Regions from separate parts of the Homo sapiens genome. Here region 2 is linked to region 1. The links come from fine-mapping of genetic effects on gene expression. A gene starts in region 1. The other region holds a variant in brackets. All regions are shown on one strand. Distances are from middle to middle.

Region 1 (4,391 bases):
TGAAAAGCAGCCAACGTCTTCTTACATAGTTAAGTCAAAACTCTTCATTTTAGTTTCAAAAAGTGTGGTATTAACAATGATCTTCAATGATTTCATCAGATATAAAAGAGAGCTGGCCGGGCACAGTGGCATACGCCTACCATCCCAGCACTTTGGGAGACCAAATCGCTTGAGGTCAGGGGTTCTAGACCAGCCTGGCCAACATGGTGAAACCCCGTTTCTATTAAAAATACAAAAATTACCTGGGCGTGGTGGTGGGCACCTGTAATTCCAGCTACTAGGGAGGCTGAGGCAGAAGAATCATTTGAACCCAGGAGGCGGAGGTCACAGTGAGCTGAAATCACACCACTGCACTCCATCCTGGGCGACAGAGCAAGACCCTGTCTCAAAAAATAAATAAATAAAATAAAAGCTAAAGAAAAAAAATCCCCTAAGACAGTTATTAAAAATTATGTGGTTGCTTCATGCCTGTAATCCCAGCACTTTGGGAGGCCAAGGGGGGAGCTTGAGCTCAGGAGTTCACGACTGGCCTAGGCAACATGTTGAAACCCTGTCTTTACCAAAAATACAAAAAATTAGCCGGGTATGGTAGTGCGTGACTACTCGGGAGGCTGAGGTGGGAGAATGGCCGGGAGATGGAGGTTGCAGTGAGCAGACACCACATCACTGCACTCCAGCCTGGGCAACAGAGTGAGACCTTGTCTCTAACAAAAACAAAAACACAACAAAACAAAACCAAACAAAACCTTTTATTCTTGTTACCTATCAAAAAAAAAAAAGAGGCTAATTACTTGATTTTCCTTCTTACAGGAATCCCGAGTTTTCCACAATTGCAATTTTTAAAGTTTAAAGTTATAACAAAGGAAGAAAACACTTAACTGGTCCAAATGAAGGTATTTGATTTTTGAGGGGGTAAAGGCTGAAAACATAATTGATTCTATTTTAACACTTCAAAGATAGACCAATCCCTGTCCTAAATTGAAAGGGAGCATGTTGAAGTAATGTATTAAGGAAAGGAAGTCTCTATTAAATAAAACCTTTTCCACCCTAAACATGTTTATAATACACACAGTCCAGTTGCTGTGGTGACCCATAGCCCAACTATTTTTCAGAGACAGTAGCTAAGACCCAAAAAAACACAAAGTCTCCAAATTTTCTTCAGCCTGCTACTTAAAAAACCAAGTTATGAATGTATCAAGCCTAGTTTCGAATCAAAATACTCACCGTTGTCAAAAAGTAACCAAAAGTAACATGACGTTTTTAACTACACAGGCTCCTAAAAAATACTCTTTGTATAGGATCCTGCACAGTTCTTACAATATTCTTACAATAAAACTTAAAGACACTACCTCACTAGGAATGAACAGATTCCACTTACGCAGTTTTAATGTTTAAGTAAAATCAAAGAGAAGAGTGTTCCTGAAGGGAAAATATTGAATCATACTACATTTTAATGAAAACACCGCTGCCAAACCTAAATATTGAAGCACCAAGTTTTCCAAGCCAGGGGGTGTAGGGGGTGGGAAAAGACGACAGAGGATCTGATCTATCAACCAAAGAGATGGACAAACCATTCTGATGAGGCATAGAACTCCAGAATCTTTATTTAAATTCCCCAAATTTCAAATAGCAATAGCTGGAGAAAAAGTGAAGTGTGTACTTTTGACTACTTCAGTCAACAACATCCCTATTTCCTTCCAAGGCCAGTTACTATCCCGCCCCGAAAGATGTTTCCAATTGATCTTCCCAGGAATGAAGTTACCAGCCTCGATGCAGCTGTGCACAAGGCGGAAAGTAAAGAGGGGCGGGGGGCCGCTGGAGCGAAAGAGAAAAAGAAATGAAACTCGACACCGGATGACTAGCGAGCTAGGGGAGAGGAAGAAACGCGGACGGCCGCGTGTGCCCTACAGGAGATCAAAGTCTGGGGGAAGAGGTGCAACCTCACCGGGCCTTGGTAAGCACTGAATTACTGTACTTTCATTTTCCAACTTCCTGTCACTACAGAAAATGAGAATTGCTCCCCTCCTCCCCATCCACGCCGAAAAAATCGCCGCCACCTTTCGCCCACGAGACTTCGGGGGACCAAGAGGCGACGAGAGCTGAGCGGTGCGCTGCGGCGTCCACCTGTGCGCCGCGGTGCCCGGCGGGCCGGGGGCGGACCCAAGGGGAGCGCGCGCGCCCGGCCCCGGCCCCCGCCCCCACTTCCTGTTGTGCCGCGCGCCCCTCGGCCCCCGCCCCCGCTCCCGGCCGGTGGGGCTGTGGCCGCGAGATCCCGAGGGGGCGCGCGGGGCTGACCGCTCACCGACGCCGCGCGCGGGGCTCCCCCTCGGTCTCCGCCTCGAACACGATGCGCCTCTCCGCCCTCAGCCTCCTCCTCACGCTGGAAACTCGAGGACGGCGCGGCAGCCGCTGCGACCCCCGCGGCGGAGCCGTAGAAGGCGGCGGCGGCCAAGCCGAGCCCGCCGGGTGCCCGCAGCCGCCCGCATCTCCCGCCGCCGCGGCTCCTGGCGCCCCGCCCTCCCCGCCCCCGCACGCGGCAGCGGCGGCGCGGGTCTTGGGGCCGCTACACGCCGGGCGCGCGCGTTCGGGGCGTTCCTTGCAGCGGCGGGGCCTGCCAGGCCCTCCGCGGCCGCCGCCACTCTCAAACCCCCCGACTGCTCCTGGGTCCCTCCCAGACGCCGTAGTCGCTACACGTCACTTCCGGGGGAGGGGCTGCGACCCTAAGGGGTGTCGTGAGCCGCGTCTGCCAGCAAACCCGGGTTTGGTGTGGCCGGGGGATGTAGCTCGGGCGCCTCCTGGAGTCGTCTCGCCGCTCTCCGTCGCGTTCGGTGCGGTTGCTTCCAGGTCCCTGAGGCGCCCGTCCGGAACCCGCCAGGACCCAAGCTGCCGCCTGGGCCGGGACCTCGGACTCCTCAAAGGCGCGCCACTTTCTCCTCGGTTGGAGGGAAGAGGTGGCGCTCGCAGAGCAACCTGCGGGGGACCACTTCTGTTGGTGCTAAGCTTTGGGGAGAGTCTCCTCCCTCCTGTGTCCCTCGTCCTCCTTACCACTCGCTGTTAGAAGTTGGGGCCGTCACAGCTTTCTCATCGAAGTGCCAGATCCCAGGACACTACAAACGCTTGATAAATACTAAATTAGCACTGTGGCTTTCTAGCCTGGGGACTGACAAATGGAAGCGCTGGAGTCGTGGGAAAAGCTTGCCCTGACGATGGAGGCAGCGACCAGAAATCCATTCGTGGCTCTACCCCTCACTAACTCACCAATTTTAAGCAACCTTAACCTCTCTAAAACAGTCATCATTTATAAGGTGGAGAGAACCCAATCTTAGAGTTGTTGTAATGATTAAAGAAAATAAGGTGCATGAAACACCTAGCAAGAGTTTCTAGCTTAGAGGTTCTCATTAAGTAAAATTCTTAAGGAATCAGGTCACACTTGATACAAGAGGCTACTTGAGCAGTTTAGCACCAGAAGGAATGTAAAGTCATAAATTAGGACAGCTGAACAAAACCTCCAAGAAATAAATTAGGTGTTTGTTTAACAAGAAACCAAAGAGAGGTCAGTGTCTGAGTTACTGGTTATTCGAGGCCATTTACTAGCTGTGTGACCTGTAGTGAGTTGCTTAACCTTTCTGGACCTCAGTTTCCTCATGTAAAATGACGATAATGAGCAGCATTGCTGAGAGGATTAAATGAAGTATAGAGCATAATGTACTTAGTGCATTACCTAGCACATAGTAGATACCCAGTAAATCGTGGTGTCATTTATTTTTGCCCCCACAATTGAATGTATAGTTAATTGAACTCACTGAGTGAAATGTGATTCTGTCATCCTTTTGTAGGCTTTTGGAAGAGAATCATCACTTCCTTGATTTCCAGCCTCCTCTTCCATAATACAGAGTAATTATAATCCACAAAGGTAGCTATTCCTGTAAAAACAACTCTACCAAAAGATGTTACCTTTCCAAAATTAGTTTTACCAAAGCATGCAAACATATTAAGACATGTTTTATAAGGAACATGCAGTATCTGAAAAGCACTAGCAGTCTTGGCCCCTAACATAAAATTTTCCTTGCAACAAGTTCCATCTTGGAAACCAAGAAAAAAAAAAGTATTAAGGTAGGCTGTTTAGGATACACCTATTGGAAACATTTGTTTATAAAAAGATTTCATTTTAAAGCCCCCTACCAAGAACAGTTAAGGGTTGTGGAGATCTGCACACTACGCTGCTCTGTTCAAACTGGCAGTAAACATCTGATTCGGCCTTAGGGCCAGTAGTTGTGTCATATCCCTTTTAGACTGAGCTTACGGCATTGTCAATTGCAGTGTATTTTTGGAAAACAGCCTGCTTTGGGAGTTCTTAAATTAGTCATAGCAAATCTGTCTGCTTTTAAATT
Region 2 (4,391 bases), 32 kb before region 1:
GCTGGAGTGCAGTGGTGCGATCATGGCTCACTGCAGCCTCCAATTCATGGGCTCGAGGGACCCTCCTACCTTAGCCTCCCAAGTAGCTGGGACTACAGGTGCACACCACCATGCCCAGTTAATTTTTTTAAATTTTACTTTTTGTAGAGACCAAGTCTTGTGATATTGCCCAGACTGGTCTTGAACTCCTGGCCTCAAGAGATCCTCCCACTTCTGACTCCTAAAGTACTGGGATGTGCCTTCCGAAATGCATATGCCACTGTGCCTGGCCAGCAACCTGGATTGTAATGCTGGCTTCTGTCTCCTTAACTTGCTTTTACCAAACCAAACCTTCTCTTTTTGTTAGGCTGTGCAACCACAGTGCTGGTGACAGGGGCAGGAGTTGGCGAGATGGTGCTGCAGATGCTGGTTGGTTCGGTATGTGGGGACCTGTAAGGGAGAGGGGAGCATTTGGGGAGCACTCCTCTGACAGGTGAGAAGATGCAGATAGCCACCTTCTGAACTCAAACTGTCCCTTTCCTGAGTCTCCAGCAAAGCCAGCAGGGCCCCCTGTGCCGTTGTTACCTGTTTCCGTTTCCAAGCCAGCCCTGAGAGCTGAGCCTCCATATGTGGGATCTGGAGATGTAAACGGATGCATGGAAAAGTCCAAAGCAAACACAAGCCATGTCTGGGAGCAGGGCCAGAGGGGGCCCGTGGGAATGCTGTTTAGCTCTCAGAGCCTGAGATGGGTTGGAACTGCAGTCAGAGTTCTTTTTCCATCCCTTCGGAACCCACCACTCCCTACCCCACCTCTCACAGCCTCTGGCCACCCTGCAGAGGGCCCAGCTTCCTGCTCAACTCCTGCCCTGACCGAGAGGGCCAACTCTTCCAGTTCTATTCAAATCCACCCATGTTTCATTTATTCACCAGGAAAAAAAAAAAAACAACCTAACATCTACTTTTTATTGAATACTATAATGTAGATATTATTCCCCTTTTTACAACAGAGGACACGGAAACTCAGATGAATTTAGCAACTTACCCTAGGTCAGTCACACTTCCAGAAACTGACAGAGAGGACCTCACATCTAGATCTTCCGGCCTCCAAAATCTCCCTCATTGTGACTCCATTCTCCTTTCCTCCTCTTTTGCCCTGCTGGAGGGAGGGGAAGAGCTGCATCTCACCATACCCTCCTCATTGAAATGATGTGACATCTGGGACTTGCTTTAGTGTAACCTAGTGCAGAAAAGAAGTGCAAGGCCACCAATGAAACCGGTGCTGACTGCTAAAGTTGAGTGTTGGGTTCATTGGAGCTCCATATACTACTTTAACATGTTTTAAATTCTCATAATAAAAGAGTAAAACAATATATCCTCTGCAAAGTTCTGGTTAGGGCTTATGGGTATAGAAACACCTAGTATGACTGGAGCTTCAGTGATGATAGAGATCGTCAGAAGGTTCCAGAACACAGAGCTGCAAGGGACTGCAGGGGGTCACCAGGTCCAGTCCCTGCCTTAGAGCAGGACTTCGGCCTTCTCCAGACACATCAACTTGAAACAAGGCCAAGGCCTCCCTCCTCCCCGTGATTCCATCTCTTGGTGTGACGGGCCTCAACTTAGCTGAAAAACCAGCCAAGGATGGAGAAGGCTGCTTCCTCCGATACACCTTCCACGTGAAGTTTTAATTGTCTGTCTCTCTGTGTTTTCCCCTTTGGCAGATATTCCAGGCTCAGGGCAGCTATAGTTTCCTGGTCTGTGGCGTGATCTTTGGTTGTCTGGCTTTTACCTTCTATATCTTGCTCCTGTTTTTCCACAGGATGCACCCTGGACTCCCATCAGGTAAGGAAAG[T/A]ATCTGTTTCTACACAAGAGGAGGAAAACAGAGCCGGGGTCGGGGAGCGGGGGAGCAGGAGATGCTATGGATCTTAACGTGCCAGAAACGCTGCTCTGTTCCAAGTAAAATGCAAGGAAATGTTTATTTTTCTACAGCTTCCTTTTCCTCTCTTCCTGCTTTCCATACGATTGTCTGCGCTGGACTCTTAAGATAGGCGAGAGCTGGGTCGGCTGACTCATGGTTTCTCCATTAGCAGAGGGGTATGGATTGTGAACTTGGCTTCCTGCATCCCACCATGTCATGGGACCATGAGCCAAGAATCTCTTTCCAGCCTGTTCAGGGAACTGAAAGGCAGAGCCCGACTCCTTGGCTGGAACTCAGCCCAACGGCCTAATTGGCCATCTCTTTGCAGTTCAGGATTTTGATTCTAGTCCAAATCTTTTTTTCAAAAAGAAGTCCTTCAGGCCAAGTAGCAAAGAAAGTCTCCTTCAGGGCACAGACACCTCCTAAGAATAGTCTCCCTTCTAGAGACCCCAGGCAGGGGGAGTCCCAAAGCAATTTTCATAACCCTGAGCCCTTACCTGCCCTTTTGCCCACTGCTTTCAAAGTGCCCAGGGACTGCATCGGCTGTGTGCAAAGCCAGTTCTTAAGAGAAGGTGCCCAGGCGGAGACTCTGTCCTCCCTATAAAAAGCAAAATCATCACAAAAAGACTAAAGGAACAGGCATTCACCATCCGCTCTCAGTGGGTGAACATATCTACGCTCTAAACGCTCAGTACAAAGGCCCAGAAGGAAAGGTGGCCCCCAAAACAGCACTAACTATAGCCTCACTTCTGAGACAGCAGTACTGGTTGCACACACACAGGAGTTTCATTTAAGACCTACATTCAATTAATATTTGCTGAACATTAAATGAATAACACTTAATGGGCTCCTTATTCATGGGAGACAGACACATTCCCCAAGCCCTAGACAGCAGTCTCAGGAAACTGCCTCCACCAACTGTTCGCCAGAACTAGGGGGTCTGACTTTTCACTTTGCTCCCTCTAGAGCCACAGAATGGCAGAGAAACAAACAGCCTGGGTAAGCTCTCAGAATGAATCATCACTGCAACTCATCAGAGCTGCTGAAACATGCTACCTGTTTTGTTTTTCTTTTGTAGTTCCTACCCAAGACAGATCAATTGGAATGGAAAACTCTGAGTGCTACCAGAGGTAAAACTGGGTGAAGAAGGCAAGAGAAGACTTTCAGCCTCTTGATCACCAGCACGACCATACTGTTTCAGAAAGCTGGGTGGTGGTGGAGGCGCTCTCTCAATGGCTATTCAAGTCTTCTCCACTAAAACTTGGTTGGGTAGAGGAAATTAAATTGAGTCCTGGTACCTGGTCAAAATCATTAGAAGTTTACCTGGCTTCTCAAGTTATCTTCTTCCCTGGTTCAGACTGTTGGTAAGAGCTGTCCAGATACCCAGATGGGAAGGAAGGAGACAGCCGCGCGCTTCACTCCATTTGTCACCTCATGCATGGACCATACTCTGGGTTTGAGATCATTCTTCATTGAAGTTTGTAAAAATAGGTTGAAATTGTAAAGCTCCATGATCATTGCTATATGTAGATATATTTCAATTTAAGCAAAACAAGCTGCAAGTTATTCCCTGGCATGCTCAAAGGATTTTCGTGCTTTTCACTTAATAGTCCAAAGTCTCTTAAATTCCTGCTGCAGACATCAATAGCTTATCTATATTCTCAAACACCAAAAGGAAAAGTTGAATCTTGCTCTCTTTGGTATACTAATGTAGTGGTATGCTAAGCTGGCTCATACCAACTTAGAAAAGCTGATTGTAAAATTTTCATTTTGACAGCTGGTTATTAAATGCAGCCATTATTAAAAATCAAATCATACAAACTTATAATTAAATCAATTACATTTAAAACAAAGGTAATAAATATTCAAAGCATATCACTTCCTAATTTGATCTTGATGCTCTTGAGGTAATTTACGTCCATGGTACCTGTGTGGTGGAATTACTATATATGATGGTGTGCTACTGTGCACCTTGTCTCAACTCCACTCTTCGTGATAGCATGTTGGTAGCTTGAAATCAGCCTGGTGGGAGTATTACCATGGACACTGGCAAAAGCTACAGATCCCGGAGAGCCAGTGGTTAAACATTTACCAGCATACCACTGCTAGTAATCAAGGCTAACTGGTCCAGAAATCGCCCAGGAGAATGAAATGGATGTTCCATTTTTTTCTACTGACATTGACTAGCATATAAAAGGTATAGAAACAGCACTAAGACTTTCTGAAAATACCTAATGAAAATTTTACATCTTTTTTTGTTTTTGTTTTTGTTTTTGAGACAGAGTCTCACTCTGTTGCCAGGCTGGAATGCAGTGGCGTCATCTCGGCTCACTGCAACCTCCGCCTCCCAGTTTCAAGCGATTCTCCTGCCTCAGCCTCCCAAGTAGCTGTGACTACAGGCGCATGCCATCACGCACAGCTAATTTTTTGTATTTTTAGTAGAGACGGGATTTCACCGTGTTAGCCAGGATGGTCTTGATCTCCTGACCTCATGATC

The links. PIP is the estimated chance that this variant, and not a neighbour inherited with it, causes the effect. A credible set is the group of variants that fine-mapping cannot tell apart.
Region 2: its variant is the best candidate, but not a certain one, in a credible set for the expression of ELK4 in whole blood (TOPMed, PIP 0.74).

The regions. Positions count from the first base shown.
Region 1 is chr1:205,629,330-205,633,720 of GRCh38, forward strand. It overlaps ELK4 (ETS transcription factor ELK4), which reads right to left and starts at 2,682. Exons shown (of 5, transcript NM_001973.4): 1 at 2,303-2,682. RefSeq lists enhancers at 1,730-2,149, 2,760-3,069 and silencers at 2,160-2,349, 2,440-2,589.
Region 2 is chr1:205,597,434-205,601,824 of GRCh38, forward strand. SLC60A1 (solute carrier family 60 member 1) reads left to right here. Exons shown (of 10, transcript NM_181644.5): 8 at 347-417; 9 at 1,698-1,818; 10 at 2,973-4,391. The coding sequence ends at 3,028. Among named protein-coding and RNA genes, the nearest start is that of SLC60A1-AS1, 30 kb to the left of the region's middle. RefSeq lists an enhancer at 2,532-3,731. The variant T/A (reference allele first, on the strand shown) is at 1,829.